7 separate regions of the Homo sapiens genome follow, and regions 1, 3, 4, 5, 6 and 7 are each linked to region 2. The links come from fine-mapping of genetic effects on plasma protein levels. Region 2 holds a variant in brackets. A gene starts in each other region. All regions are shown on their forward strands. Distances are from middle to middle. Region 1 holds the start of CASP2 (caspase 2). Region 2 overlaps CUX1 (cut like homeobox 1). Region 3 holds the start of HSBP1 (heat shock factor binding protein 1). Region 4 holds the start of CCN4 (cellular communication network factor 4). Region 5 holds the start of TNFSF12 (TNF superfamily member 12). Region 6 holds the start of DYNLT1 (dynein light chain Tctex-type 1). Region 7 holds the start of CDKN1A (cyclin dependent kinase inhibitor 1A).

What was found. PIP is the posterior inclusion probability: the model's chance that the variant is causal. The UK Biobank Pharma Proteomics Project read protein levels with antibody pairs (Olink). The fine-mapping took linkage between variants from a reference panel, not from the people measured, so its PIPs are less certain.
Region 1: it holds the start of CASP2, and the variant in region 2 is fine-mapped to the plasma level of the CASP2 protein (UK Biobank, PIP 0.96).
Region 3: HSBP1 starts here. The variant in region 2 is fine-mapped to the plasma level of the HSBP1 protein (UK Biobank, PIP 0.98).
Region 4: it holds the start of CCN4, and the variant in region 2 is fine-mapped to the plasma level of the CCN4 protein (UK Biobank, PIP above 0.99).
Region 5: it holds the start of TNFSF12, and the variant in region 2 is fine-mapped to the plasma level of the TNFSF12 protein (UK Biobank, PIP 0.97).
Region 6: DYNLT1 starts here. The variant in region 2 is fine-mapped to the plasma level of the DYNLT1 protein (UK Biobank, PIP above 0.99).
Region 7: it holds the start of CDKN1A, and the variant in region 2 is fine-mapped to the plasma level of the CDKN1A protein (UK Biobank, PIP 0.95).

The regions. Positions count from the first base shown.
Region 1 is chr7:143,286,260-143,290,259 of GRCh38, forward strand. CASP2 (caspase 2) reads left to right here and starts at 2,092. Exons shown (of 11, transcript NM_032982.4): 1 at 2,092-2,270. The coding sequence starts at 2,197. It overlaps TMEM139 (transmembrane protein 139), which reads left to right. Exons shown (of 3, transcript NM_001282876.2): 3 at 165-1,789. The coding sequence ends at 570. TMEM139-AS1 (TMEM139 antisense RNA 1) reads right to left here and starts at 75. Exons shown (of 3, transcript NR_133932.1): 1 at 1-75. RefSeq lists a silencer at 1,719-2,468.
Region 2 is chr7:101,854,513-101,858,601 of GRCh38, forward strand. All of the region lies in intron 1 of CUX1 (cut like homeobox 1), which reads left to right. Among named protein-coding and RNA genes, the nearest start is that of CUX1, 39 kb to the left of the region's middle. RefSeq lists an enhancer at 2,410-2,539. The variant G/A (reference allele first, on the strand shown) is at 2,138.
Region 3 is chr16:83,806,502-83,809,499 of GRCh38, forward strand. HSBP1 (heat shock factor binding protein 1) reads left to right here and starts at 1,477. Exons shown (of 4, transcript NM_001537.4): 1 at 1,477-1,620; 2 at 2,179-2,245; 3 at 2,804-2,924. The coding sequence starts at 1,576. The coding sequence ends at 2,922. RefSeq lists an enhancer at 1,271-1,772 and silencers at 1,430-1,606, 1,624-1,913.
Region 4 is chr8:133,189,374-133,193,462 of GRCh38, forward strand. CCN4 (cellular communication network factor 4) reads left to right here and starts at 1,666. Exons shown (of 5, transcript NM_003882.4): 1 at 1,666-1,840. The coding sequence starts at 1,772. RefSeq lists a silencer at 2,538-2,785.
Region 5 is chr17:7,546,999-7,551,084 of GRCh38, forward strand. It overlaps TNFSF12 (TNF superfamily member 12), which reads left to right and starts at 2,060. Exons shown (of 7, transcript NM_003809.3): 1 at 2,060-2,314; 2 at 2,476-2,523; 3 at 3,122-3,197; 4 at 3,801-3,854; 5 at 3,945-3,980. The coding sequence starts at 2,156. TNFSF12-TNFSF13 (TNFSF12-TNFSF13 readthrough) reads left to right here and starts at 2,060. Exons shown (of 11, transcript NM_172089.4): 1 at 2,060-2,314; 2 at 2,476-2,523; 3 at 3,122-3,197; 4 at 3,801-3,854; 5 at 3,945-3,980. The coding sequence starts at 2,156. RefSeq lists silencers at 1,955-2,144, 2,175-2,254.
Region 6 is chr6:158,642,777-158,646,865 of GRCh38, forward strand. It overlaps DYNLT1 (dynein light chain Tctex-type 1), which reads right to left and starts at 1,967. Exons shown (of 5, transcript NM_006519.4): 1 at 1,906-1,967. The coding sequence starts at 1,932. It also overlaps a transcript of SYTL3 not described here. RefSeq lists an enhancer at 1,338-2,281 and silencers at 1,405-1,734, 1,895-2,124.
Region 7 is chr6:36,676,866-36,680,944 of GRCh38, forward strand. It overlaps CDKN1A (cyclin dependent kinase inhibitor 1A), which reads left to right and starts at 1,849. Exons shown (of 3, transcript NM_000389.5): 1 at 1,849-1,933. DINOL (damage induced long noncoding RNA) reads right to left here and starts at 1,694. Exons shown (of 1, transcript NR_144384.1): 1 at 744-1,694. RefSeq lists enhancers at 1-749, 1,942-2,131, 2,143-2,730 and silencers at 1,662-1,891, 3,462-3,851.

The DNA of each region.
Region 1 (4,000 bases), 41 Mb after region 2:
CCCTGTAGTCTCTGAGGCAGAGAGTCTCTGGTTTCCTGTCATTGGCATCAGCGGGAGGAGGGGTCAGAGGCCAACAGAGGATCTTTTGCCCACAGCAGACAAAAAAAAGGGAAAAAGGGCTTCTTTCATGGAAGCCACCAATGGCCTTATTTCTCTTCCCTCAGGGACAATGAAGCCTTTGAAGTGCCAGTCTATGAAGAGGCCGTGGTGGGACTAGAATCCCAGTGCCGCCCCCAAGAGTTGGACCAACCACCCCCCTACAGCACTGTTGTGATACCCCCAGCACCTGAGGAGGAACAACCTAGCCATCCAGAGGGGTCCAGGAGAGCCAAACTGGAACAGAGGCGAATGGCCTCAGAGGGGTCCATGGCCCAGGAAGGAAGCCCTGGAAGAGCTCCAATCAACCTTCGGCTTCGGGGACCACGGGCTGTGTCCACTGCTCCTGATCTGCAGAGCTTGGCGGCAGTCCCCACATTAGAGCCTCTGACTCCACCCCCTGCCTATGATGTCTGCTTTGGTCACCCTGATGATGATAGTGTTTTTTATGAGGACAACTGGGCACCCCCTTAAATGACTCTCCCAAGATTTCTCTTCTCTCCACACCAGACCTCGTTCATTTGACTAACATTTTCCAGCGCCTACTATGTGTCAGAAACAAGTGTTTCTGCCTGGACATCATAAATGGGGACTTGGACCCTGAGGAGAGTCAGGCCACGGTAAGCCCTTCCCAGCTGAGATATGGGTGGCATAATTTGAGTCTTCTGGCAACATTTGGTGACCTACCCCATATCCAATATTTCCAGCGTTAGATTGAGGATGAGGTAGGGAGGTGATCCAGAGAAGGCGGAGAAGGAAGAAGTAACCTCTGAGTGGCGGCTATTGCTTCTGTTCCAGGTGCTGTTCGAGCTGTTAGAACCCTTAGGCTTGACAGCTTTGTGAGTTATTATTGAAAAATGAGGATTCCAAGAGTCAGAGGAGTTTGATAATGTGCACGAGGGCACACTGCTAGTAAATAACATTAAAATAACTGGAATGAACTCCTGATCCCAAAGCCTATTGTGTTTTCAACACAAGGTAATAGGAAGCCAAGCAACTTGCATGTCTCCCAATCCCTGTCTAGGGACAGCTGCTGGTGCAGGATGGAAGACTTCCTATAAACAGAATGGGCGACCAATTGTGTCTACAGAGGGGGTGGGCTGAGCATGGGCACGCATGTCCCCAGCCTCCTGGACGAGCAAAGTCAGTCAAAGCGCTGGTGATCCCTGCTCCGCGTGCGTAGCAGTGTCTGTGCCTCTCCTGCCCAGGGGCTAGAGAGCAGTCTCCAGTGCAGGGTCCCCATCCTATCTGAAAACAGTGGAGTCAGTGACCCCAGGTGGAGGGACTTCCAGTTTTAACAATGGGTTGGTATGAAGGCCAGAAGGAGTGAAACATGTGAACTTTCTGGCGAGGAGACTCCCTCTTGAATCATCCATATGTAGCCCCGGGGTCACTTGCGAAGAGTCTCTAACAGCTTCTGCCTCACTCCTAAGCTCTGACCGCTAGGCTTTCACCCCAGCCGCCGGTCCTGATTCCTGAGATCCCAATATTGAGCACCAGGTTTCCTGGAATTGTGTGCTGCGGCTGTGATGTAGGTTTCGGTCGCTGGAAGCTGCTAAACCATAGCTGACGCCCCCTCCTAAGCCAGCCTTCCTTCCCCGCGCGGGCATCTGTCCAGGGCCTTGTCGCGCTCTCAGTCTCCTTCGCAGCCTGGCCCCAACCGTTCAACTTCAATAAAGCAAAACTCCAGCCACGCCCGTCTCCGTGAAGTTATCGCCATAGGCCGGCCAGGGGGCGCGAGAGGCACCGGGGTGATTTCCGCGGGAATCGATAACCAATCGGATTCCCAGGCCGAACGGAGCACACCCGCCCGCCCTCGCTCTTTCCCCGCCCTTTGCCCCGCCCCGCTCCTTCCCCTCCTTTTGTCTGTCCGCCGAGCACCCCACTTCACCCCATTGGACCGCGCGGCCGCCGCTAGAGCTCTGCGCCTGCGCACGCACCGGGCCGGGGACTGGGTGGCCTGGTGTGTGGGCGCGGCAGGGCGCAGGCGCAGGCGCAGTGTGCGTCCGCGTCTGAGGGGAGGGATGTGGGGGAAGCGACGGCCCCCGGTTTGTTTGGGCTGTGGGCGGTGCGCAGCGGAGAGCCCGGGAAAAGCGGGAAATGGCGGCGCCGAGCGCGGGGTCTTGGTCCACCTTCCAGCACAAGGAGCTGATGGCCGCTGACAGGGGACGCAGGTAAGTAGGGAACGGTCTTAGGGCTCCTTAGGGGAGCCCAGGGAAGGGGAGCGTGGCCCCCAGGCGTGCGGCCCTGCAGCCCCCTCCCCTCGGAGCCCCGGAAAGCAGCCGTGTCCGCGCTTCCTGCCAAGGGTGGGACGCCCGCCCGAGCCGCTCCGAGCCTGACTCCGCGCAAGGGCCCGCGGGCGGACCTCTTGGCCTTGTCTCTCGTGGGAAAAGACTGCCCCAGCCTCCCTTTGTTCAACCCACGAGGGTTCTAAAGGGGAGGTCTTTGCAGTCCTGCCCGCTCTTGGGTTCTCTTGAAGATTCTTCATCCTTTCCTCTGGCTCCCTTATGAGGGAAACTATAAAAAGACCATACTCTGTCTCCTTAAAAATCGACGAGACCTTCTGCAGACCTCGGTGCTCTGCCTGATGTGCATTTGATTTGTATCGATTGTATCATGATCTGCATGGCTTTGCATAGAATGACCAGATTTTCAAAGAAGTCAATACAGGGTTTGGAAATTGAGTACTTTTGGCAGAACAAGGGGGTTCCTGTGGCTCCGAGTGTCCATGCCTCTGCCCCGGTCATTCCATTTCATGGCAGTCATCACCCAGGAGAACATTGTAATGCCTCCTGCTCGAGACTGAAGATTAAGGTCTTCGCAAAGGGAACCTGCAGAAGGACACAGAATTAAGACGTAGGAACTCCGTGGTGCCCTTCGCCCCTCCTCCCCTTCCAGTTGTGTCCTGAAATTCTAAATGATTGGAAACTTTTATAATGTTCACGTTTAAGACTCTCATACTACAGAGTAGAGGAAGGAGCGGGTGTGCAGAGGGGGTGATGCTTCAGATTAAAACTAAAGAGTTGATTGAAAATTCAAGTCTGGAACTCGAGAGAGTTAAGAACTATAAGTCAGTAAGTTGCAAGTATGGGTGAGATTGTCTAGGGAAAGGCTCTTTGAAGGGGCGTCCCTAATGGAATATCAATATTAAGGGCAGGCCAAAGGCCCTCTAAAGAAAACAGGAACTGGGTAGGCAGAGAGAAGACTCCCAAAGAATGCTGTCATGGAAACCAGAGGAAGAGAACGATTTAAGGAGCGAATACTACTGGTAAACTAATGGAAGAAATCTGCTGCACCACTGGTTAGTATCCCAGCTGCAGTGTTATATGTGATCGTTATTACTGCTTTGACGTATTCGAAAGTGATTCATTCTTAAATAGGTTTTTTTATTTGTATAGCTCTTTTTCTTGTAGCCAGTTTTTCCTGAAAGTCTTGGGTAATGGAAATATTACAGTAAAAAGAAGAAAAAATGGAGTTTCAGACTCATTTTTCCAAACCTCAGATTCATTGGCTGCTTCCAACCCACTTCATCTGTTTTAGGATCCCACCTGCTATCTTAGTTCTCCCAGTTCTTCCAGGACCCAGCTCTTCCCTCTTCTAACTATAAATCTCTCACCCAATAGCATCTGCAAGCCAAGTGCATCCATTCCATAGATGTGTGGTATTTCACTGACTCTAAGATACACATTTTTTCCCTCCCTTTTTTTTTTTTTTTTTTTTTTTGGACGGAGTCTTTGCTGTGTCACCCAGGCTGGAGTGCAGTGGAATGATCTCAGCTCACTGCAACCTCCATCTCCAAGGTTCAAGCGATTCTCCTGTCTCAGCCTCCCGAGTAGCTAGGACTACAGGCATGCAGCACCACACTCGGCTAATTTTTTGTATTTTTAGTAGAGACAGGGTTTCA
Region 2 (4,089 bases):
CCTAAGTTCTTAGTGTTTGGAAGGGACCCCCTCCATAAAGTGAGGTGCCTCTTGGCCACTGCTCAGCCAGTGGGGGCTGTTCCTAACAGTTGCCTCCTCCGATTGCTGGAGTAAGAAATGACACCCTGTCTCCCATTTCTGTGGCACCCCATTCTCAACAGTGATGGTTCTGCCTGTTTTTAGTCACACACACCTGCACACTTCAAAGGACTAAAAATGGACTCAGTTTTCTTTCTTTTTTTTTCTTTTTGAGATGAAGTCTCACTCTATCACCCAGGCTGGAGTGCAGTGGCATCATCTTGGCTCACTGCAACCTCCGCCTCCTGGGTTCAAGCGATTCTTGTGCCTCAGCCTCCCAAGTAGCTGGGACTACAGGCATGTGCCACCACACCCAGCTAATTTTGTATTTTTAGTAGAGGTGGGGTTTCACCAGGCTGGTCTCAAACTCCTGACCTCAAGTGATCCTCCCACCTCAGCCTCCCGAAGTGCTGGGATGACAGGTGTGAGCCACCTCGCCCGGCCTGGACTCAATTTGGATTGCAATGCCCCACAATGGTGACCTCCCTCTTCTCTGTTAATGCATCCTCTTCCCTCTTGCTTAAAAATTTCCCCAGTGCCGTGGCATCTTACCTCCTGCTGAAGTGTGTGCTGATGCTTTGCTGGGGGCTGGACCCCGTCCCTTGGAGCCTGGCCCAGGCCCTGCCTCCCAGTGAAACCCTGGCCGCCTTTCCAACCTCAGAGGCTCTATCTCCTCCCAAACCCTGTAGCCCTTCCAGTTGCTGGTCACTGACTTCCATTAATTGGCCCGGTGGCCTTGCCTGCCAGGGGGACCATGAGGTGAGGGGCCGTGTCCTCCGAGTGGTCTCTTTCTCCAGGGTGCTGGGGACCCAAGAAATGCCTGGTCGTTTCTCATAGGTTGATAAGGAAAATGAGGCCTAGGTAGGGACAGGCAGGATTTCACCTGAATTTACAAGATGATGCAATGGAAGAGTCTTCAGTATATTTTCACGTATTTTAGAATTGAGTTACAACATTCATTTTGGTACTTTCTCTGTGTTCTCCCCATGTGTTAAAAAGCAGCTTAAGGCCGGGCGCGGTGGCTCATGCCTGTAATCCCAGCACTTTGGGAGGTCAAGGCGGGTGGATCACGAGGTCAGGAATTCCAGACCAGCCTGGCCAACATGGTGAAACCCCGTCTCTACTAAAAATACAAAAATTAGCTGGGCGCAGTGGCAGACGCCTGTAATCCCAGCTACTCGGGAGGCTGAGGCAGGGGAATCGCTTGAACCCGAGAGGCGGAGGTTGCAGTGAGCCAAGATTGTGCCATTGCACTCCAGCCTGGGCGGTAGAAGGAGTTTCCAGCTCAAAAAAAAAAAAAAAAATGCAGCTTAAGTGCTGGTTTAGCGCCTGTAATCCCAGCACGTTGGGAGGCTGAGGCGGGAGGATCACTTGAGCCCAGGAGTTTGTGACTAGCCTGGGCAACATAGCAAGAACCCGTCTGTACAAAAAATAAGAAAAATTGGCCAGGTGTGGTGGCGTGCATCTGTAGTCTCAGCTCCTTGGGGGCTGAGGCTGAAGGATCGCTTGAGTCCAGCAGGAGGTCAAGGCTGCAGTGAGCTATGATCAAGCCATTGCACTCCAGTCTGGGTGACAGAGTGAGACCCTGTCTCAAAAAAAAAAAAAAAAAAAAAAAAGGAAACAAGAAAGAAAAAAGCAGCTAAATTCTGCTGGAAGTGTGCAGTAAAGCACAAGTTTTCAGCCATCAACGCAGGGAGCCGTTAATCACGACCCATAATAACCAGAATGTTATTCCACGGTTGCGGTTTGTTTATTTCATCAGAGTTGCGTCTTCACCTATTTCCCTCCCTACTCTTAATTGTTTATCCAAGTTAGTGTTTTCCATTCTTTCACTGAAGGCTCTAAAAATGGTCCCATCAAGAAGTCTGGTAGATAATGGAAGACGAAGTGGACTTTACAGAAAGATGAATTTTCTTCCCTAGAGCTGGAAAACCCTTCAGCGTGTCATGCGTTCCCCAGCCAGGACAGACAAAGCCACGCAATCTGTTTCCTGCAGGCCCAGAGGGGAAGGCTTCCTCCTTGTGGTTAGTGACTTCAAAAGCTGTCCTCACTAGAGCAA[G/A]TCCAACTCTTCCTCTAGTTCTGATGACTTCACGGCAGCCAACTGAGCTGCTGAACGCTGTTTTTTTCTACGCAGAAACCCTCCCGACTTTCACGAGGAGTTGACAGGTTTTCCTCTTCACTCGGGCTCCCTTGTCATCGTTAAACTGAAACTGCTTTCTTGTAGCCAAATTCTGTGGTCCCTTTTCGGCCTCGGCCTCCTTGACCTCTCTGTGTCCCCACCTTGGCTCTCCCACGCCTGCCAGCCGTACCACAGGCCCCGGGTGTGAACCCTCCCTCCGCGGTCATGCAGCCACGCCTCTGCTCAAGCTGTGCCTCCTCCTGGGCGCACCCTCCCTCTCCCATCCTTCAGCCTCTGAAGTCCTGCCCAGCTCCGGTTCCTGTTTCTGTTAGGACGAGGCCCTTCAGATCCTCTCCAGCAGGTGGACTCTGTCCTGCCCCGTACCACCCGCCGCGGGCCACTTTTGGGCCTGCGCCATGTTCCTGCCCTTACCCCGCCCGGTGTTAGCGTCACGTGGGTCCTGATGTCCTCCCTCTCCCAGGCCTCTGCTTATCTGATTGGGGGCTGTGCTTGACTCTGAAACCCGGGCACCTCCTACAGGGCATTTTGCCTGTCACAGGCCTAGCATTCAATACCTATCATATTTTTGAAATATCTGCAGAAATAAAAAGAAATAACTATTTTCTTCTTCAGGAGTTAAGATGCGTGGCCACCAAGTACTTTTCAATACATAAAATATGTTTTCAGCACAGAAAGGCCTTTCACCGCTCTTACTTACATAGTCTGCTTTTGGTATGATGGGGACGGATGAAAAATGAGGACTGTAGGCCTCCGAAGTCAGCTGTTTTGAATTAAAGCAGCGCACGCTTTGAGTCAGGTGAAGCGAGGATGGGGTTTCACCCGTTGAGGATGAATTTGCTGGGTTACTTTAAACTGGAACTGTTCTTTTCAGAAATGAGTGAAGCAGGAAGGGAAAGACGGAGCTTGTCTGGCTGGGTCGGATGACCCCCTTTGCCAGGCCGTCACCCCTCTAGGTTGAGTTAGCTCAGAATAACTTAGCTGTGCTATAGCTTTGCATAATTGCAAGGAGCTTTGTTTCGTTTTATTTTGCAGGGAATTTTTTTCCCCCCTTAGCTCTTCCTCCTGGTGTATTTGTAGAAATCAGCTTCATCATGGTCATTTAACAGTAAGGGCTGGGGGTGGTGGCTCACGCCTGTAATCCCAGCACTTTGGGAGGCCGAAGTGGGAGGATCACTTGAGGTCAGGAGTTCAAGACCAGCCTGGCCAACATGGTGAAACCCCGTCTCTACTAAAAATACAAAAATTAGCCGAATGTGGTGGCACGCACCTGTACTCCCAGCTCCTCGGGAGGCTGAGGCAGGAGAATCACTTGAACCCAGGAGGCGGAGGTTACAGTGAGCCAAGATGGTGCCACTGCACTCCAACCTGGGCAACAGAGCGAGACTCTGTCTCAAAAAAAGAGAAAACAGAACATACTATTTTTGTTGTTTCTGAGGAGTAGGGTTTCTTACCAGGGAACCTGCTTTAAAAAAATGCAGTATGTAGATTCCTTAAGAATAAAGTTAAGCAGCAGCTAACCAAGCACATGGCTAAAAACCCGGCCAAGAGCATTGTAGTATCTGGTTTTGGGGTTGGTGGTGGGGATCCCATTTTAGAGGCCGACTTTGGTTTGTGATGGTTAGGTTTTACTTTCTTAGGTCTCAGCTCACATGTCCCCTTCTCAGAGGAGCCATCCTCACCCATCCCTTCTTGGTCCCTCCCGCCTTCCCTGACTTTTTCTTCTTCAATGACTTATCTGCACATGATCCCCTACTTATAAAACCTGTGTCTTCCACTCCTCTCACCCGAAAGAATGTTTGAATTCTGAAAACAATGACTTTGTTCTTAGCACCCACAACAGCAAATGCTCAGTGAGCCCTATGTTGAGTGAG
Region 3 (2,998 bases), not on the chromosome of region 2:
TGTGAAGGGTGAGGGGCAAAGGTGTGAGTGAGGGGGAAGGGGTGGTAAAGGGAGTTGAAGTCTCATGCCTCAAGGCCAACTGGATTCCGGGTTTGTTAGAGACACTGGTGGGTCTGGCAGAGGCGTTTGAACAAGAGCAACTCCATCTCGAATAGGAGCTGGGTAAACTGAGGCTGAGAACTACTGGGCTGCATTCCCAGACAGTTAAAGGATTCTAAGTCACAGGATGGGATAGGAGGTCAGCACAAGGTACAGGTCATAAAGACCTTGCTGATAAAACAGCTTGCGGTAAAGAAGCCGGCCAAAACCCACCAAAACCAAGATGGCAATAAGAGTGAACCCTGCTTGTCTTCATTGCTACACTCCCATTACCGCTATGACAGTTTACAAATGCCATGGCAACGTCAAGAAGTTACGCTATATAGTCTAAAAAGGGGAGGCATGAATCACCCACCCCTGGTTTAGCATATAATCAAGAAATAACTATAAAAATGAGCAACCAGCAGCCCTCAGGGCTCTGTCTATGGAGTAACCATTCTTTTATTCCTTCATTTTCTTAAACTTGCTTTCACTTTACAGACTCGCCCTGAATTCTTTCTTGCATGAGATCCAAGAACCCCCTCTCTTGGGGTCTGGATCAGGACCCTTTCCCGTAACAGCTCTAACACCTTACAGCCTCTCCCTAGCTAAAGTCAAACTGGAGCTGACCCCTCACATAGCACAGTCCTTAAATGAGATGTGTGAAAGTTTCCAGAACATGCCAGGCCCGCAGTCAAGGACTCTCCTATCCCCTTGCCATGAGACCCAATCCTAAAGACCACCTGTGGGGTTGGAACTTGAGGTTCCAAATCAGCAGTGCCCACCTCCTTCAACACCCAAACCCACAGTCTAACCCTGATGCCGGAAGCCTTCCCCACTCAACAGCAGGCATTGCGTGGAGTGAAAGAAGCCAGGCATGATGGACAGCTTCCTGTCTGAATCCCCTCATATGAACCTGACGGGCACAATGAACCTACTGGGCTAAACTCCAGACGCTGGCCACCTTCATAGGGTGGAGATGACAGAACAGGACAGGAGCCATGGGGCTCCCGGGGCGGGTAGGGGTGGGTCATGTTCCTTGGCTTGGGGGCAGTTACAAGGGTACAGTGGGGCTTGTTGAAGGGCAAAAGTTCTGTAAGTTCGTCCCGACAGGCCAAAGAAACCCCAGAGCCGTCTTTCGACTGACTACAGCCTGGAAGAGAGGCCAAGACCACTCCCTGCCTCTATTGCTCCATTTCTGAGTTGGTCTCACTTTCCACCCCACTGACGGCGCGCTGCGTGAGGGGCGGGGCATAGAGGGAGGGGAGGGGCTATGCGAAAGAAGGCGGGGAGAGTGGGGTGGGGCCGCTCCTTGGAACGGAAGCGCGCGGCCTCGAGGCCCTTCCGGTGCGGGAGAAACTACTACTCCCATAATGCCCCGCGGTCCCGCGAGCTGCCAGTCTCGTCGCGAGAAGCAGCGGCCCGGGGCGACTGAGCGGACAAACGGAAGTGTAGGTTACGGTCTGAGACATCACCGCCAAGCTGGGCATCGGGGAGATGGCCGAGACTGACCCCAAGACCGTGCAGGACCTCACCTCGGTGGTAAGGGACGGCTGTGAGGGCCGGAGGCCGCGGCCTTCCCGGGCGGCGCCGGGCCAAGCCCTGCTGGACAGAGGCGCGCCCACCGCGGCCGCGCGTGGCGTCTGCCGAGGCCCCGTTTCTGGAAGCGTCTCTGGCCGAGGCTCCCGGCCACCTTGACCCCCGGGGCGCTCGGTGCGGGCCAGTCTCCCCGCGGGCGCCCCCAAGCCCGACCCCTTCCAGTAGCCCCATTCATCTGTCGCGAACGCCCTCCGGGTCCCTCCCGCCTACCTCTGACACCCTCCCCGCCCTTCAACTCCTCACACACCCCCGGGTGCCCCAGCCCGGCAGAAACAACCTAAAGACCCTGAGCTTTGAGTCGCAGCGGCCTCCCCAGCCCAGCAGTCTAATTGGACAGGTTGGAAAACGGAAGCCCAGAGAAGGAAGATCTTGCTGAAGGCCGCACAGCTGTCCAGAGGCAGAAATGGGGCTGGAACCCCGGGACCAGGGCTTGCGTCCTGATCCCAGGAAGTTGTCTCAGGATCGATGTGGACCGTGTTTGTTTGTTTCGGTTTTTCTTAGGTGCAGACACTCCTGCAGCAGATGCAAGATAAATTTCAGACCATGTCTGACCAGATCATTGGGAGAAATATCCTTTTTATCTGCAGTCGGCCTCCTGTGGGCCTTTGGAGCCTATTTGCCGGGCAGTGGTGGGGATAAATGAGTAGTTTTCAGGCTAGCTTCAGCCATTCACTTGTAGAATTTGAGCTTGGATTGTACTGTGTTTCTGAGAAGGACTGCGCCGAGAGCTAGGGGCAAAGCTGAGTTAGACTCCTGGCTCAAGGAGCATACGTCTACCAATCCTAATAGCTGGTGTGGTGGACCATGCACTGTGAACTAAGCGCTTTTGTGTGTGTCTTTTGATGCTCAGCATGACCTTATGAGTGGGTTGTAGTGTTATCATCTTTAGCAAATGAATAAATTGAGGTTTAGGGGTTCCATCACTAGTAAGGGTCAGGGCTGGAATCCGATGCGGGGTAGCCATGCCCCACAGTCCTGTACTCTTACCCACCAGCGTGTAACAGTGTCGAAAGAAAATTGGAAGACCAGTTTCCCTAAAGTCGTTGTGTTTAAGGCTGTAGTCTGCAGGGACGGGAGGAAAAAGGCTCAATGAGATGTTGGCACGCGTTGTCTTTAACTTCAGCACTTGATGATATGAGTAGTCGCATTGATGATCTGGAAAAGAATATCGCGGACCTCATGACACAGGCTGGGGTGGAAGAACTGGAAAGTGAAAACAAGATACCTGCCACGCAAAAGAGTTGAAGGTGAGGAAGGGGGCAATTTTTTTTTTCTTTTCTTTTCTTTTTTTTTTTTTTTTTTTTTTTGACACGGAGTTTTG
Region 4 (4,089 bases), not on the chromosome of region 2:
ATTGGCCGGAATTGGATCAGAGGCACATCCCCAGGTCAGTAAATGGAGAAATCATGAGCACCATCTCTTCTGGGGTCATGTCTATAGGGATCATAAACCTCTTCCATGAACACAAGCCTGCTGCTACCTCCAAGCAGCCACACATGCTTCAGCATCCCTTGTTAATAAGCTACAGGAAAAGAGAAGAGAAGGAGTAACTGTCATTTAAACCTCAGTGTCGAGTATTCCTACTGAGACCTGGAGATGCTGAGAACTTGCCAAGGTGTGAGAGGAGTTGCAAGGAGGCCATTGTGGTTGGGCATGGTGCACGAAAGGGAGAGAGGAAGAAGTGTACAGGGAGCTGGCTGGCCCAGGGGCCACGCCAGGACTGGGGACTCTGTGCTGTGTGATGGGCAGGCTTTGGACAGTTGTATCCAGAAGATGATCTATACATGACGCTAGTTCAAGGATTGCTCTGAGATGTGTGGATGGTAGAAGGTGGGCAGGGAGGCTGGGTATCAGTCAGGAGGCTGTGGCAGCGGTCCCCATGGGGAGCACAGGGCTGGACTAGGACAGCCCATAGAAGACATCCCATCTCCTTTCTTGCCCAAGGAAGAGACTCAGTGGCAGCAGTGCAATAAGGGTACAGGCCAGGAAACCCAACCCCCCAGGGATAGCAAGCATCCAGAGACACGTGGGGACAGCTCCAGCACCAAACGGCTTCTGACCAATGAGCAGAGACGGCAAACAGCAAATGCGTTACCGTGGCTTTCACGTGTCATGAAGGTGATGCTGTAACCTGAGCCTCAGAGCTCATTTTATTTGTGAATTCCTATCATCTCTAGATGGGTGGACTGAAAGCCACCTCTTTCGCTTGCAGCTAGGTAGAGGGGAGTGCAAGAGGGCAAATGAAAACCAGAAGTAGGGTTGGGCGCAATGCCTCACGCCTGTAATCCCAGCACTTTGGGAGGCTGATGTGGGCGGATTACCTGAGGTCAGGAGTTTGAGACCAGCCTGGCCAACATGGTGAAACCTCGTCTCTACTAAAAATACAAAAATCAGCTGGGTGTGGTGGCACATGCCTGTAATCTCAGCTATTCAGGAGGCTGAGGCAGGAGAATTGCTTGAGCCTGGGAGACAGAGGTTGCAGTGAGCAGAGATCGCGCCACTGCACTCCAGCCTGGCCGACAGAGCGAGACTCTGTCTCAAAAAAAAAAAAAAAAAAAAAAAAAAAGAAAAGAAAAGAAAAAGAAAAAGAAAAGGAAAAAGAAAACCAGAAGTAGGAGCAGCCTGAAGAAATGACAGGGAGTTGATTTCCCACTGGGAGCCCTCTCAAAGCCCACACACCCGCCTGCCTGGGGTAACAGTATCTCCTCGGACATCCTGCACCCTCCCATGCTCCCCCCTCCCTACAGTAGTGAAAGACCTAGGCAGGATGACCCCAGCTCCTCTGTGAGAATTTCACACCCTAGTGTGAAGTCATAGCCTTGTAACTTTCCCTTTAAGAACTGTCAGAGCTGGGGAGGCTGGCCAAGCTCAGGCTGGAGGTGGGGACAGAGGGAAGAAAGAAAAAAAAAAAAGAGAGAGAGGCAGGAAAAGTTTTTTCAGAGGAAAATGCAGGGTTTGTCCTTCACCCTGACGTCAGATCTTGCTTTAATAAAACCCCCCAAGGGCTGCGGAAGAGGCATATCTGGTGCTCCTGATGGGCCGGCCAGTCTGGGCCCAGCTCCCCCGAGAGGTGGTCGGATCCTCTGGGCTGCTCGGTCGATGCCTGTGCCACTGACGTCCAGGCATGAGGTGGTTCCTGCCCTGGACGCTGGCAGCAGTGACAGCAGCAGCCGCCAGCACCGTCCTGGCCACGGTGAGTCCTGCCTGGAGGGGCTCAGAGGGAGACCCAGCTCCCTTCTCTACTGGGTCCTGCTACATGGGGGCTGGTGGGCAGGATGAAAAGGGCCAGGAAGGTTTGGGGCTGGAAGGTGGCCACTTACAGGGCAAGGACAGAGCCCAGGGTGAGGAGTCAGCTGCCCAGGTTGGCTGAAGCTGGCAGGGTGAGGAGGACGGTGCGACACTTGGGGAAACAAACTGCACAGGTCCAGCCTGCCCTCTCTCCCCACCTGAAACAGTGCAGAAAGAACGGGGCCCTCAGCAGAACTGGGAGTCAGGGGCCCGGGCTCCAGACCCGTCTTCGCCTAACCTGGCTGTGTGGCCTCGGGTGGGTCACTCACCCTCCAGGAGCAGCGTAAAGCGACGAAGTTGTTAGGTGACTTCTAGAGTCTCTGAGTTTGAAAACTCCAAGACTCCAAGCATTGGAGATGCTGCGAAGATGGGAGATGGAAAAAGCCAAAAAAAATTGGAAAGAAAAATGCCAGCTTTCAACAAAAGCTCCTTATTGAGCAAACAGTGCTCAGGGTGATGTCTAACCCCAACTGCTGTCACCTCCGGTCTGCACAGCCCTCTGCAGTCTGCAGAGTGTCCATACTTGGGTCCTGCCTATGAAGCCTGCTGTTCCAGGGTGGGGGTGATGTGGGCACCCCAGAGTCTCTCTCTCTTCCACCTGCACCCCAGGGTACACCAAGGGGAAGGGACAAAGGTCTGCACCTCCAAAAGCCAGGGGAGTCACATATGTGACCGTGTAGAGCCAGCCTGCTAGGGCCAGGCATGGTGAGGAAAAGGCAGAGGCAGGCAGTGCAAGGAGGGCAGGAGGTGGGTACCTGGCAGCTTCTGAGCCCCAGATTCCACAGCCCAGGGCAGGACCTGCTCCTGGCAGAACAGCCTAGAGACGGAGGGGTGATGGCAAAAGAGTGTTTATCCCCAAATGACACTGATGGCTTCCTTGGGGGTTAAGAAGCCCCCTTCACAGATAAGGAAACCGTGTGTTGGGGTTAAACCACTTGCCAGAATCAGACTCTAGGTCTGCTTCAGCCAGAACTGAGGCCGAGAGCCGACAGCAAACTGAGACCTGGGAAATAGGAATTCCTCTCAATGCCTCGGTGTGTGTAATGATGGCGGGGAGTGGGTCTGTTTCATCTTGGTTAAATCCTCACGCCTGGCATGGTGCCTGACTATAGTTGGTTCAGAACCACCTTACCAGAAAGTTATCAGCTCCATTTCACAAATGAAAGAAATGGAAAGTGAGAGCAAGTAAAGGACTTGCCCAGGAGCTCCTCATTAATAAGTGGCCAGGGCCCAAACTTAGATCTTCTGATGCCAATTTCTAACCATTCCTACTTAGGGGAAGCTGACTGTGTCCTACAGGAGTGCCCAGAAGGAGCTAAGTCGCTGTTTATTTCGGCTCTGGGTATGGCTGCGCCTTTATTTGGGTATAGCTTTGCAGGTTGCTATGTCTGGGAGGGCAGGGAGAGGATGGAGAAAAGGTGAGCGTTTGAGAGAAGCCAAAGTCTGAGTGGGCAGAGGAGGCGAGAGGTTTAAGCATGAGTCCAAGTACTCTGGAGCCCCAGTCAGCTCCCAGAACAGCCGGTGCTGAGGAGGAGTGAAGGACAGAGCCGAGGACTCAGCCAGAGGAGACCAGCAAAGGAGCAGAGCGTGTGGAGGGACCCAGGGAGCAGGTTGGAGGGAAGGCTCCCGGGACCAGCACAAGGTACCTCTCTTCTAGGCAGCCCCTGCCTGGGGAACCCAGACCACCCACCCCATGCTTGTTTCATGATTTAGATGCTTCTGGGACAGAGGTGTGCACGGCACTGGAGTTCTCAGGATGTCCTGAAAGCCCCGCCCCCTGTGTGGGCTGTGAGACTGATAGAAACGAGCTGGACTCCATTTGGAAACCAGCCTTGTTTCATAGCCAAATTCCATACATGGTCATCCTCCCGAATTAATATGCAAAGGGAGCACATGTCCAACCAGGGTCTCAGTGAGATCTTAATGGAAAAAATTGTTGTAAATGTTCATATTGAAGAAAATGCATGTGAGAATTGCCAAGAAAACTTTGAGGAAGTAGAGTTACAAGGGGGACTTCTCTGGGAGATATGAAAGCACTCTGTAAAGATTCTGCAGTGGAAGGAGGAAGATGGCAGCCCAGAAGGAGATCAGCCAAGGAGGAAGGCACTGGAGTGATCTCAGGAACAGCCGAGTGTATTTGGGAATTTAATCTGT
Region 5 (4,086 bases), not on the chromosome of region 2:
TTTTTTGAGACAGGGTCTTCCTCTGCAGCCCAAGCTGGAGTTCAGTGCCCAGATCATAGCTCATGGCAACCTGGAATTCCTGGGCTCAAGCGATCCTCCTGCCTCAGTTTCCCCAGTAGCTGGGACTACAGGTGCACACCATGATGCCCAGCCTGTTTTGTTGCTTTTTTTTTTTTTTTTTTTTTTTTTTTTGAGATGGAGTCTTGCTCTGTCGCCCAGGCTGGAGTGCAGTCATGCGATCTCGGCTCATTGCAACCTCCACCTCCCGGGTTCAAGCAATTCTCTGCCTCAGCCTCCCGAGTAGCTGAGATTACAGGTGCCCGCCACCGTGCCCAGCTAATTTTTGTTTTTTTAGTAGAGACAGGGTTTCACCATCTTGGCCAGGCTAGTCTTGAACTCCTGACCTTGTGATCCACCGACCTTGGCCTCCCAAAGTGCTGGGATTACAGGCGTGAGCCACCACAACTGGCCCCAGCTGTTTCTTATTTACATTGTGATTTCAGTTTTGAAAATTTTCTGGAGATTCTAACTGCTTTTCTTTCTTTGCATACTCTTTTTTTTTTTTTTTTTTTTGACAGGGTCTTACTCTGTTGCTCGTGTTGGAATGCAGTGGTGTGATCACAGCTCACTGCAGCCTCAACCTCCCAGGCTCAGGTGATCCTCCCATCTCAACCTCCTGAGTAGCTGGGACTACAGGCATGCACCACCATGCCCAGCTCTATGGATGCTTTTTCTTGACTCTCTTTAAGTATATTAGGTAGTACTCTTTGTATCCTGAATTATCTCTGTTTCCTCCAATGTCAAATTTTGTTTGTTAATTTTGGTCTTTCTTTCTTTTTTTTTTTTTTTGAGATAGGGTCTTGCTGTGTTGCCCAGGCTGGAGTGTGGTGGCGTGATCTCAGCTCTCTGCAACCTCTGTCTCCTGGGTTCAAGCAATTCTCTGCCTCAGCTTCCCGAGTAGCTGGGAACTACAGGCGCCTGCCACCACGTCCGGCTAATTTTTTTGTATTTTTATTAGAGACAGGGTTTCACCATCTTGGCCAGGCAGGTCTCGATCTCCTGACCTCGTGATCCACCCGCCTCAGCCTCCCAAAGTGCTGCGATTACAGGCGTGAACCATCGCGCCCAGCCAATTTTGGTCCTTCCTTCCTTCCTTCCTTCCTTCCTTCCTTCCTTCCTTCCTTCCCTCCTTCCCTCCCTCCCTCCCTCCCTCCTTTCTTTCTTTCTTCCTTTCTTTCTTTCTTTTTGAGACAAGGTCTGTTGCCCAGGCTGGAGTGTAGTGGTGCAATCACAGCTCACTGCAGCCTCAAACTCCTGGGCTCAAACAATCCTCCTACCTCGGCCTCCTGAGTAGCTGGGACTACAGGCGTGGGCTAATTTTTTAAAACTTTTCTGTAGAGATGGGGTCTTGCTCTTGCCCAGGCTGATCTTGAACTCCTGGCCCCCAGCCTTGGCCTTCTGGGATTACAGGCGTAAGCCACCTGCCGGACCAATTTTGGTGTTTCTTTTGCATGCTGCTGGTCCTCCTCAGATGCTTGGCAATCATTGGTAATGATGGGCTTCAGAACGTGCTACCGGCACAGTGAGTGTTTTAAGCTGAAGGAATTTGAGAAAACCGCAGAAGCCGAAGGATCTTTCTTACCTTCTCCTGCCCTTCTTCCCTGAACCAGGTCATACAACCTGGAACTCCCTGCCCTTTTCCTGAAGAAGCAAATAACAGCCTCCTGCGAGAGGCGCCCTCCCTGCACCTGGGGGAAAGGAGGGTCCTTATCTCTGAAGACACAGGGACACAGAAGAATCTGAACCAACAGGCCTTCCTGAGTTCCCCACCTCCCCGCAGGAGGTGCCCGCACACGCATAGCCCCGTCGCTCCCGCGGCCGCACGCAACGGACCTCGCCCTGGTGGTGCACGCCCGGGCTGGGCGCTCAGAGGTCGGGTGGGCGCCCACTCCGTTCGCTGCGCGCACAGCGCCCGGCGAGAGGCTCGGAGTTTGATCACACACAGCGTCCGGCTTCCTGTCCCCAGCGCCCCCTCCCGCCCCGTTTCCCTTGCCCCTCCCTCTCCCCGGCCCGATCCGCCCGCCGGCTCCCCCTCCCCCGATCCCTCGGGTCCCGGGATGGGGGGGCGGTGAGGCAGGCACAGCCCCCCGCCCCCATGGCCGCCCGTCGGAGCCAGAGGCGGAGGGGGCGCCGGGGGGAGCCGGGCACCGCCCTGCTGGTCCCGCTCGCGCTGGGCCTGGGCCTGGCGCTGGCCTGCCTCGGCCTCCTGCTGGCCGTGGTCAGTTTGGGGAGCCGGGCATCGCTGTCCGCCCAGGTGAGGCCCCGCTGCGCACCCCTTCTTGGGCACATCAGGAGCTGAGACTGCAGAGGGGCCGCTGGGGGCCGCGTGGGCTGAAGGCAAGGGGAAGGGAGGATGGGTGGAGGGTGAGATGTCAGGTGGAGCGGCACAGGGTGACGCTCCCTCCTTCCCAGCAGGAGCCTGCCCAGGAGGAGCTGGTGGCAGAGGAGGACCAGGACCCGTCGGTGAGTGGGCGTGGGCGCGGTCTGCAGGCTGCTGGGGCATGGGAAGTGTGCACAGCCGAGGCTGCAGGTGTGTGCAGCTGTGCCAGCCGTACTCGAGGTGTGTGCAGGGTGTGTGTGAACACAGTGCGTGCATGGGTGCGTGTCTGCAGGGGTGTGTGTGCGTGGTGACAACTCTGTGTGAGGGGTTTGTGCTGGGGTTGTGCCACCTGAGTCTGAGGTGTTTATTGGCTGGGGGTGACGTGGTTGTATAAGATATGTGAGTCTGCGTGGAAGAGGGGTGCGGTTGTGTACAGGGTGTGTATCCTCTGTGCGTGGTGACTGGGTGCGGGCATGTGTGCAATGTGCCAATTGAATGCAGGGTCTGCGTTGGTTGTGTGTGTGGGTGGGAAAGTGTAGCTGGTCTAGAGGAAAGGGTGAGGACTGGGGCCTGACTCCCAGCTTCACCTTTGCCCGGGGCCCCAGCTGTAGTTGGCTGAGGGGCTTAATCTGTCCCTGACTTCTGTGTCTATTGCTGGCTGGTGGCTCTCCTGACAGGCCCCGTATGTCTCACTTTATATCTCTGGGAGTCTGTGGTTGAACCCTGCCCTAATTCCCCTAGGAACTGAATCCCCAGACAGAAGAAAGCCAGGATCCTGCGCCTTTCCTGAACCGACTAGTTCGGCCTCGCAGAAGTGGTGAGCATCCCTCTATCCCAACCTCAGGAAGCGGGCAGAGCAAAAACCATTATCCACAGGGAGAAACTGAGGCACGGAGGGTGAAAGGAGTTCAGAGTCATGCAGCTAACCAGCCAAGACTCAAACCTAGGGATTCTCGCCCTCCTCTGAAGCTCCTTCTGTCATATGGATGTGCTCCTTCAGACCCTACCCCAAACAGGAAGGCAGGGTGGCCATGAGTTAGAAGAACTACTGGGATCCTGATGGAGACTAGGCCTGGCAGTCAGAGGCCTGGGCCCCGGTAGGCAAAGAGACTTAGGAATGGGATGATGGGGTGGCCGGATGACCACGTGTCCAAGTCGGCATGCAGTTGTCCTGGCCCCCACCTGTTATCTCGGTGTGATTAATAGCAGCTTCCCGTTTTGCTCTCAGCAGTATCCCAGTGTGGATGACAAATTATAGTCACTCTACTTACTGAGGAAGATGAGGCCTGAGATTCTAAGGCCAGGAGTCTGGACAAGAATAAGGATGCCAGGGTTCCTGAGAGGGGAATGGGGCTGGGAGAGTTGCTCTGGGACCCCCACTAGGGCCCGCTTTGCTCATCTGTCTTTCCTTGATCCTCAGCACCTAAAGGCCGGAAAACACGGGCTCGAAGAGCGATCGCAGCCCATTATGAAGGTGGGTGATGGGTGAGCCATACCCAGGAGGAGAGGGGCAGGTGGCAGAGGGTCAGGGCAGGTCTCACCAGCCTTTTCCTGTACTTTACAGTTCATCCACGACCTGGACAGGACGGAGCGCAGGCAGGTGAGACCCCATCCCCCGACACAGCACTGGCCTCCTGGGAAAAGGGCCCTTGAAAACCTTTGACCTCCCACTCCCTTCCCGGCCATCAGTCTCAGAACCACAGAAG
Region 6 (4,089 bases), not on the chromosome of region 2:
ACAGTACGAAAAAGGTTGAGGGACATTTTAAAGAATTTTTAGTGGAAAGCAGAGTTGTATTGAATCCAGTGGATAGTTTTAACGTCTCCAAGAAAGATGAATGGTGAGTTGAGAGAATAGTTACAAAGGCCCAGGCATCTACACGAAGTTAGAAGAGATGCAGAAAAGGCTGCTAAGAGGCTGGTGGGAGGACCAGAACGGGCCATTCAGTAAATACCTAAGACATGCCTACTACAAGACAGCCATGGTCTCCACCTCCCAGGGCCTCCATCCCAGGTAGAACACTCATCACTCTGTCCAGCCCCTTCATTTTACACATATGCGATTGAGATCTCGAATAATGAAGCCACTTAGCCACCTTATTTGTGGGAGTCAGAATCGGACTGCAGTATTAAGCGCTTTCCTTTACAAAGCGATTTCTTTTTTAGAAGTTTTACTCGATATTACTGTAATACAAGACATTTTCCAATATTATATTAGTAACAGTTTAAGGGGAAAGGCTTTTTTCTTTGCCAACTGCTCCTGAACCAGCTCTTCTCGTCATTATTCACTTGGTTGCCATCAGCATTCAAACACTGATTATGCCACTGTCACAGGAAGTGTGTGCTAGTTAGGAAATCAGATCAAAACTGAAACTCTAGAATCAGTCCTTAAGTTTTAGTTTTATTTTCCCTGAAAACATTCCTCCTTAAACGAAATTTTTTTCTTTTTTTTTGGTTTTTGAGACGGAGTTTCGCTCTTGTTGCCCAGGCTGGAGTGCAATGGCGCGATCTTGGCTCACGGCAACCTCTGCCTCCCAGGTTCAAGGGATTCTCCTGCCTCGGCCTCCCGAATAGCTGGGATTACAGGCATGCGCCACCACGCCCGGCTAATTTTGTATTTTTAAAAGAGACGGGGTTTCTCCATGTTGGTCAGGCTGCTCTCGAACTCCTGACCTCAGGTGATCCGCCCGCCTAGGCCTCCCAAAGTGCTGGGATTACAGGCGTGAGCCACTGCGCCCAGCCACTAAATTTCATAAATGGTAAGATATCCAACCTTACCAAATGTATCTATAGTTTATATTTTTGACAGGCTGCATAATAAATCCATAGGGCTCTATCTGAATTTCAACAAGGATTATTCAGTAAGAAGAAAATGAGTGTTGTATCTCAGCTGCGCCCATCAGCTCTATTCCCCGAATGACCGTGAGCTTGAAGGAAAGCCATTTAACGCACACGGTGCCGATGGGTGTCTTCTGCTTGGCGACATCGTGGGCTTTATCCTACTTCCTCAAGGAGGCATAAAAGATGATTTTTTCCCCACAACAATGAGCTTTCTTACAGACATATTAAACGGAAATGAAATGTGCTACTCATTCCCAGCGTTGCAGAACCAGGTGAGGCCCGAGACAAAGGCGCGGGATGGCCGGGACGCCAGCCCGGGGCGGAGGGGCTGGCGGCGGGAGCGTCACCCGCACCTCCGCGGGGAGACGTCCAAGCCTCGGCGCTCCCAGCCCGGCCGCCGCGCCCCGCTCCAGGCTGGGGCTGGGGCTGGGGTCAGCCCCGCAGAGCAAGGGGCGGTGATGTCATCCTCTCGGCGAGCTTGGCTGCGGGCCGGAGGCGAGGCCCTGCGGGAAGGTTTCTCGGCACCGCTCACCGGGGCGCTCTCTCCGAGTCACGCCCGGTGCCTCCCCGCGCGGGAAGAAGCTCAATCCCCTTCCCGCCCCCCGCGCCGGGGAAACGGCGGCAATGTCCGGGCAGAATGGGGCCGGGCGGAGCGCCGGCGACCGGGAAGCTCAGGCCGTGGGCTGCCGAGACTGGCCTAGCTGAAGGAGGTGGGCAGCCAGGCCTTTCCGGGCAGGACCGCGTGTCCTTCCGCGGCCAGGGCTCTAGGCCTCCACCCTTCCGTCGCCGACCCGGCGGTTACCTCCTCCGCAGCCTGGTAGTCTTCCATCTTTCCTCCGGCGCGTCCCCTCCGGCTCCCTGAGTGGCGCGGACTGCGCAGGCGCACTCAGGCCCCGCCCCGGACCTGCCACGCCCCTCTCCTCTCGCGCCTGCCTCGCCCATGCCCAGCTCCCGGGCCCCGCCCTTCGCTGCCCGGACCCTCAGTGACCCCATCCCTGGGCGGGGCCCGTGGGTGGACCCTGAATTCGCCTCTCCTCCTGTCCTCTGGGAGGTGGTAGTTTCCATGGGAATCCGTGAGGGTAGCCGGGCAGCTCCCTAAACCTTAGCAACAGAAACAAAACACACGTACAAAAGGCAGTCCTGGAGGGGAAGCGTGGTCCCGGCCCCTCCTCCGGTTTGTACTGTGTGGATTGACGCGGACGTTCAAACCCGCTCGGACACCTGGCAACAAACTCGAAAGTGACTGCTGAAGGCAGTGCGCCCGGTGAGACGTTGTTGCAGTTCCCTTGGGGACTGGGATTGGCATGCTTTAGCTATCTGAACGAAACTTCCCTTTGGGGAGTTAAGTTTTCCAGGTAAATGAGAATTTTTCCTTTAAGCACCATTAAAAAAAAACATTTTGGGTGGAAAATTTTGTAAAATGTGGCACACTTCCTGACTACCTTAACCATAGTGAACTAGACAGACTTTATTTGTATGTGGGTTCTTTATGGAAATTAGGAATTGCACTGGGCTCTGGTAAACTGCCCTCCACGGAAAGCTGGGGCATATGCATCTATTGGCAGGTATTCTGAGGCTCCGAGTTTTGATTTTGGCGTTTGCTTTTTCTGGTTTCGTCATGCACTTGAATTCAGGTTGCTGGAACCCACTTCCCATTCCCCAAGAAAGAGCTGACTGCAAGGGTCCCAGGGATTTGGTAGACCTAAACTTCAAATCCCACATCTAATCCATCAACAACCCTTGTTATTTCTACCCCATATGCTCGGGACCCCAGTTAAAGATTGATATCTCTCATCTGGATTATGACCATCGGACTGTAACCTGGTCGGTCTATCAGGGTCTTATTAGAGCCCTTCAAGAGGAACCTAACCCAACGACTCCTCCCTCCCCTCACCCATTCTGCCCTGCCATAAGTCAATAGTTACTAAGTTGTCAGACTATAGACTAATCTTAGTGATCTTTGGATGACTAAACTTTTAACATATCTTAGCTCAAAATCTCCTACAGAGAGCCATTCTGTGACCACGGCATCTAAGGTAGCCGACCTCCTCATCCTCCACCCCTGCATCCTGTACATTTTCCTCATAGCACTTCTCTCAGTTTGCAAGAACGTATTTATGGTTGCTTGTTGATGGTGTGTCTCCATTTAGAAACTAAGTACCATGCAGGAAGGATCTGTTTTATTCACTAATGTATCCCCTTCCTTCCACATTGTGCCTGGCACATAATAGCTACACAATTAACATTTATTTATTTATTTATTTAGAGACAGGGTGTCATTCTGTTGCCCGGGCTGGAATGCAGTGGTGTGATCGGAGATTTTGAGCTAAGATGTGTTGAAGTTTAGTCATCCAAAGACCACTAAGAGCTTGAACTCCTGGGCTCAAGGTATTCTCCTGCCTTAGCCTCCTGAGCAGCTGGGATTCCAGGCACTAGCCACCACACCCACCTATTTTTTTAATATGTCTTTTGTAGAGATGGGATCTCACTGTGTTGCCCAGGCAGGTCTCAAACTCCCGGGCTTAAGGGATCCTCCAGCCTCAGCCTCCCAAAGTGCTGGGATTATAGCTGTGAGCCACCATGCCCGGCCTAAAATTTATTGCATGAATCATTTCCCTCATGGGTGTTAGCTTTGCCTCAGACCCAAATGGAGAGAACTGGGGAGTGGAGGAAGATGCAACTACCTGCCTCCTTGAGGGAAACAGGGCTGGCGAGAGGAGGGCAGAGCCCTGACTGACACAAGGCTGCTTGGCCCTGGGTGTTCGGCCTGAGCGAGGAGACTTGCTGGGCAGGCTGGTTGCTTTACCACACCTGGTCTTCCTCTCCTTGGATTCTGAACTTTATCTACCTTTTGAATTCCTTTCTTATTACCTGGCTTCAACTCCCCTGTCCTGGTGTTTCAGTCGTGCGCCTCAGTCCACATGTGATTCTGATGCTGACATTGCTTTGCCTGCCTGCCCTTCTCAGTATCACCTGAGATCTCGTT
Region 7 (4,079 bases), not on the chromosome of region 2:
GAAGTTATAAAAAAAATTCTTTCCCAAAAACAACAACAAAAAGAATTATTTCATTGTGAAGCTCAGTACCACAAAAATTTAAATAATTCATTACAAGCCTTTATTAAAAAAAATTTTCTCCCCAAAGTAAACAGACAGACAATGTCTAGTCTATTTGAAATGCCTGAAAGCAGAGGGGCTTCAAGGCAGTGGGAGAAGGTGCCTGTCCTCTGCTGGACATTTGACAACCAGCCCTTTGGATGGTTTGGATGTATAGGAGCGAAGGTGCAGACAGCAGTGGGGCTTAGAGTGGGGTCCTGAGGCTGTGCCGTGGCCTTTCTGGGGTTTAGCCACAATCCTGGCCTGACTCCAGGGCGAGGCAGGCCAAGGGGGTCTGCTACTGTGTCCTCCCACCCCTACCTGGGCTCCCATCCCCACAGCAGAGGAGAAAGAAGCCTGTCCTCCCCGAGGTCAGCTGCGTTAGAGGAAGAAGACTGGGCATGTCTGGGCAGAGATTTCCAGACTCTGAGCAGCCTGAGATGTCAGTAATTGTAGCTGCTCCAAGCCTGGGTTCTGTTTTTTAGTGGGATTTCTGTTCAGATGAACAATCCATCCTCTGCAATTTTTTAAAAGCAAAACTGCAAATGTTTCAGGCACAGAAAGGAGGCAAAGGTGAAGTCCAGGGGAGGTCAGGGGTGTGAGGTAGATGGGAGCGGATAGACACATCACTCATTTCTGTGTCTGTCAGAAGAACCAGTAGACACTTCCAGAATTGTCCTTTATTTATGTCATCTCCATAAACCATCTGCAAATGAGGGTTATTTGGCATTTTTGTCATTTTGGAGCCACAGAAATAAAGGATGACAAGCAGAGAGCCCCGGGCAGGAGGCAAAAGTCCTGTGTTCCAACTATAGTCATTTCTTTGCTGCATGATCTGAGTTAGGTCACCAGACTTCTCTGAGCCCCAGTTTCCCCAGCAGTGTATACGGGCTATGTGGGGAGTATTCAGGAGACAGACAACTCACTCGTCAAATCCTCCCCTTCCTGGCCAACAAAGCTGCTGCAACCACAGGGATTTCTTCTGTTCAGGTGAGTGTAGGGTGTAGGGAGATTGGTTCAATGTCCAATTCTTCTGTTTCCCTGGAGATCAGGTTGCCCTTTTTTGGTAGTCTCTCCAATTCCCTCCTTCCCGGAAGCATGTGACAATCAACAACTTTGTATACTTAAGTTCAGTGGACCTCAATTTCCTCATCTGTGAAATAAACGGGACTGAAAAATCATTCTGGCCTCAAGATGCTTTGTTGGGGTGTCTAGGTGCTCCAGGTGCTTCTGGGAGAGGTGACCTAGTGAGGGATCAGTGGGAATAGAGGTGATATTGTGGGGCTTTTCTGGAAATTGCAGAGAGGTGCATCGTTTTTATAATTTATGAATTTTTATGTATTAATGTCATCCTCCTGATCTTTTCAGCTGCATTGGGTAAATCCTTGCCTGCCAGAGTGGGTCAGCGGTGAGCCAGAAAGGGGGCTCATTCTAACAGTGCTGTGTCCTCCTGGAGAGTGCCAACTCATTCTCCAAGTAAAAAAAGCCAGATTTGTGGCTCACTTCGTGGGGAAATGTGTCCAGCGCACCAACGCAGGCGAGGGACTGGGGGAGGAGGGAAGTGCCCTCCTGCAGCACGCGAGGTTCCGGGACCGGCTGGCCTGCTGGAACTCGGCCAGGCTCAGCTGGCTCGGCGCTGGGCAGCCAGGAGCCTGGGCCCCGGGGAGGGCGGTCCCGGGCGGCGCGGTGGGCCGAGCGCGGGTCCCGCCTCCTTGAGGCGGGCCCGGGCGGGGCGGTTGTATATCAGGGCCGCGCTGAGCTGCGCCAGCTGAGGTGTGAGCAGCTGCCGAAGTCAGTTCCTTGTGGAGCCGGAGCTGGGCGCGGATTCGCCGAGGCACCGAGGCACTCAGAGGAGGTGAGAGAGCGGCGGCAGACAACAGGGGACCCCGGGCCGGCGGCCCAGAGCCGAGCCAAGCGTGCCCGCGTGTGTCCCTGCGTGTCCGCGAGGATGCGTGTTCGCGGGTGTGTGCTGCGTTCACAGGTGTTTCTGCGGCAGGTGAATGACGGGCGTGGGTCGGTGCGCGCTCGGCTTGCGCACACGGTGTCTCTAAGTGCGCGGGTGACGAGAGTCGGGATGTGCCGGAGACCCCGGGGCGGAGAGCGGGATTACAAGTACAGGAATCCCTGGTCACGCTCCCCGCCCCTGGAAACCCAGCTGGGGCGAGGGAGGGCGTGGACGGGACCGTTCTGGGAGCTCGCCTTTGGCTGCGGTTGGCTCCAGGCCCCAGGCGCAGTTTGCTCGCGGCGTGGGGATGAAGTCCGTGTCCCTGGAGGGGCCCAGGAAGGGCGAGGAAAGCGGAGTGGAGTAAGTTCGTCTAGGATCGGTCCCGGGTGGCTCTGGGATCCAATCTGCGCCGCCCTGGCCCAGGTCCCAGGTTCAGGTCCTTTACGCCACTGTGTCCACCACCTGGCTGAGCGCTGAGGTCAGCGCGGGCTGTTTCCTGGCCCTTGGGAATGTGCCAGGACCCGTCCCCTAAGGACTAGCGAGGAGGTGACTCACTGTGACAAGGAGACCCCAGGGAACGGACTGTATGAGGTCAGAACCCCGCCCGGGATGGGGTACAGCGGGACTCCAGAAGCCCTCTCCCCTGCCCCTTCGCGGTCTCCGTCCTCCCATCGGCACAGTGACCTATTTGGCTGGAACAGTTTGTTCCCAAGGAAGCCGGGCACTGGAGGTCCGGGACACCGCGTCGGGTCCCCGCTCCGCGGCGCGCTGTAGGGGTCGGGGAGTCACGGCCCTGCTCTGGGCGGGCTCTAACCAGCCTGTCAGTCGGGGAAGGGCAAGGGTCTCCTCTACCTCTTTCCCACCGCGGCCGGGAGAATCGCGGCCCAGCCTGTCCTCGGGTCGGGGCGCTGGACTCCGGGGCGGGAGCGGAGCCCACGCCTGGATGGGAGGCGGGGAGGGTTCATGTCTTTGAGGGGTGGGGGGTCTGGGGGGCACGACGCTGCTCAGGGCCTCTATCAGCTGCCTCGGGGGCTCAGGGCTTCCCGACCTAGCCCAGATTCCCTCTCCGAAAGCTACAGGGCTGAGCGGAGCAGGGGGGCGAGTCGCCCCCTGGGGCGCCGCCGCCTGGCGCGGACCACAGCGCGTCCTCTCCGTCCCAAACCCCTGGGGGACACTTGCGCCCTCTTCGTGAGGAAAAGCATCTTGGAGCTGGGTTAGGAACTTGGGGCGCCCAGGCAGCTTCCCCTCTCCTTGCCTCCCTCCACGTCGCGTTTCTGGGAGGACTTGCGAGCGGTTTTGTTTTCGTTGCTCCCGTCTATTTTTATTTTCCAGGGATCTGACTCATCCCGTGCTTTGGGCGTGGAGATAAGGTGGAGGGGCCGGCTCCCGGCGCGCGCGCGCGTGCGTGTCTGCGCGGGCGTGTGTGTGTGTGTGTGTGTGTGTGTGTGTGTGTGTGTCTGTGTCAGAGACGGCACAAGAGCGCGCGGTTTCCCAACAGCGGCGGGAGTTTCGGAAGCCTGGCCGGCTCAGCGTGACGTGTTCGCGGCCCCCCGGTCCCCTCCCATTCTCCCCCTCCCCACCCCAGGGTGACGCGCAGCCGGAGTGGAAGCAGTTTTGGCGGGCGAGCAGCGCCTTGCAGGAAACTGACTCATCACTACTCCCTCCAGCGGTCCGAGGCTCTGCCCACGCACCTCCCACTCCGCGCGTGATTTCCTGGAGGCCGGCGCCCCCTCCCGGCCCTGGCGGGAATAGCACACAGGCTTTCCCGCGGAGTGGGGCTGGCCGGCGCGAACCGCCGCGGCTACTCCTGGGCTCATCCGAGATCAACCCCTATGCCATTACCACCCCTTCAAAGGAGCACTCCTTAGGTTCAACAGTATTCACTGAGCTCTTACTGGAAATTAAAATATGGCTGAAGTCTAAGGCAGGAAGGCCAATAAAGGAGGCTATTTTTAATTGTTTCTAAAACAAGGGTTTGCGTTTCTGAGTTTTCTTTGGGCTGAAAGTTATTATGAGCATGAGAGCAGATTTTGATGGGGGAGGAGAGGCCTATGAG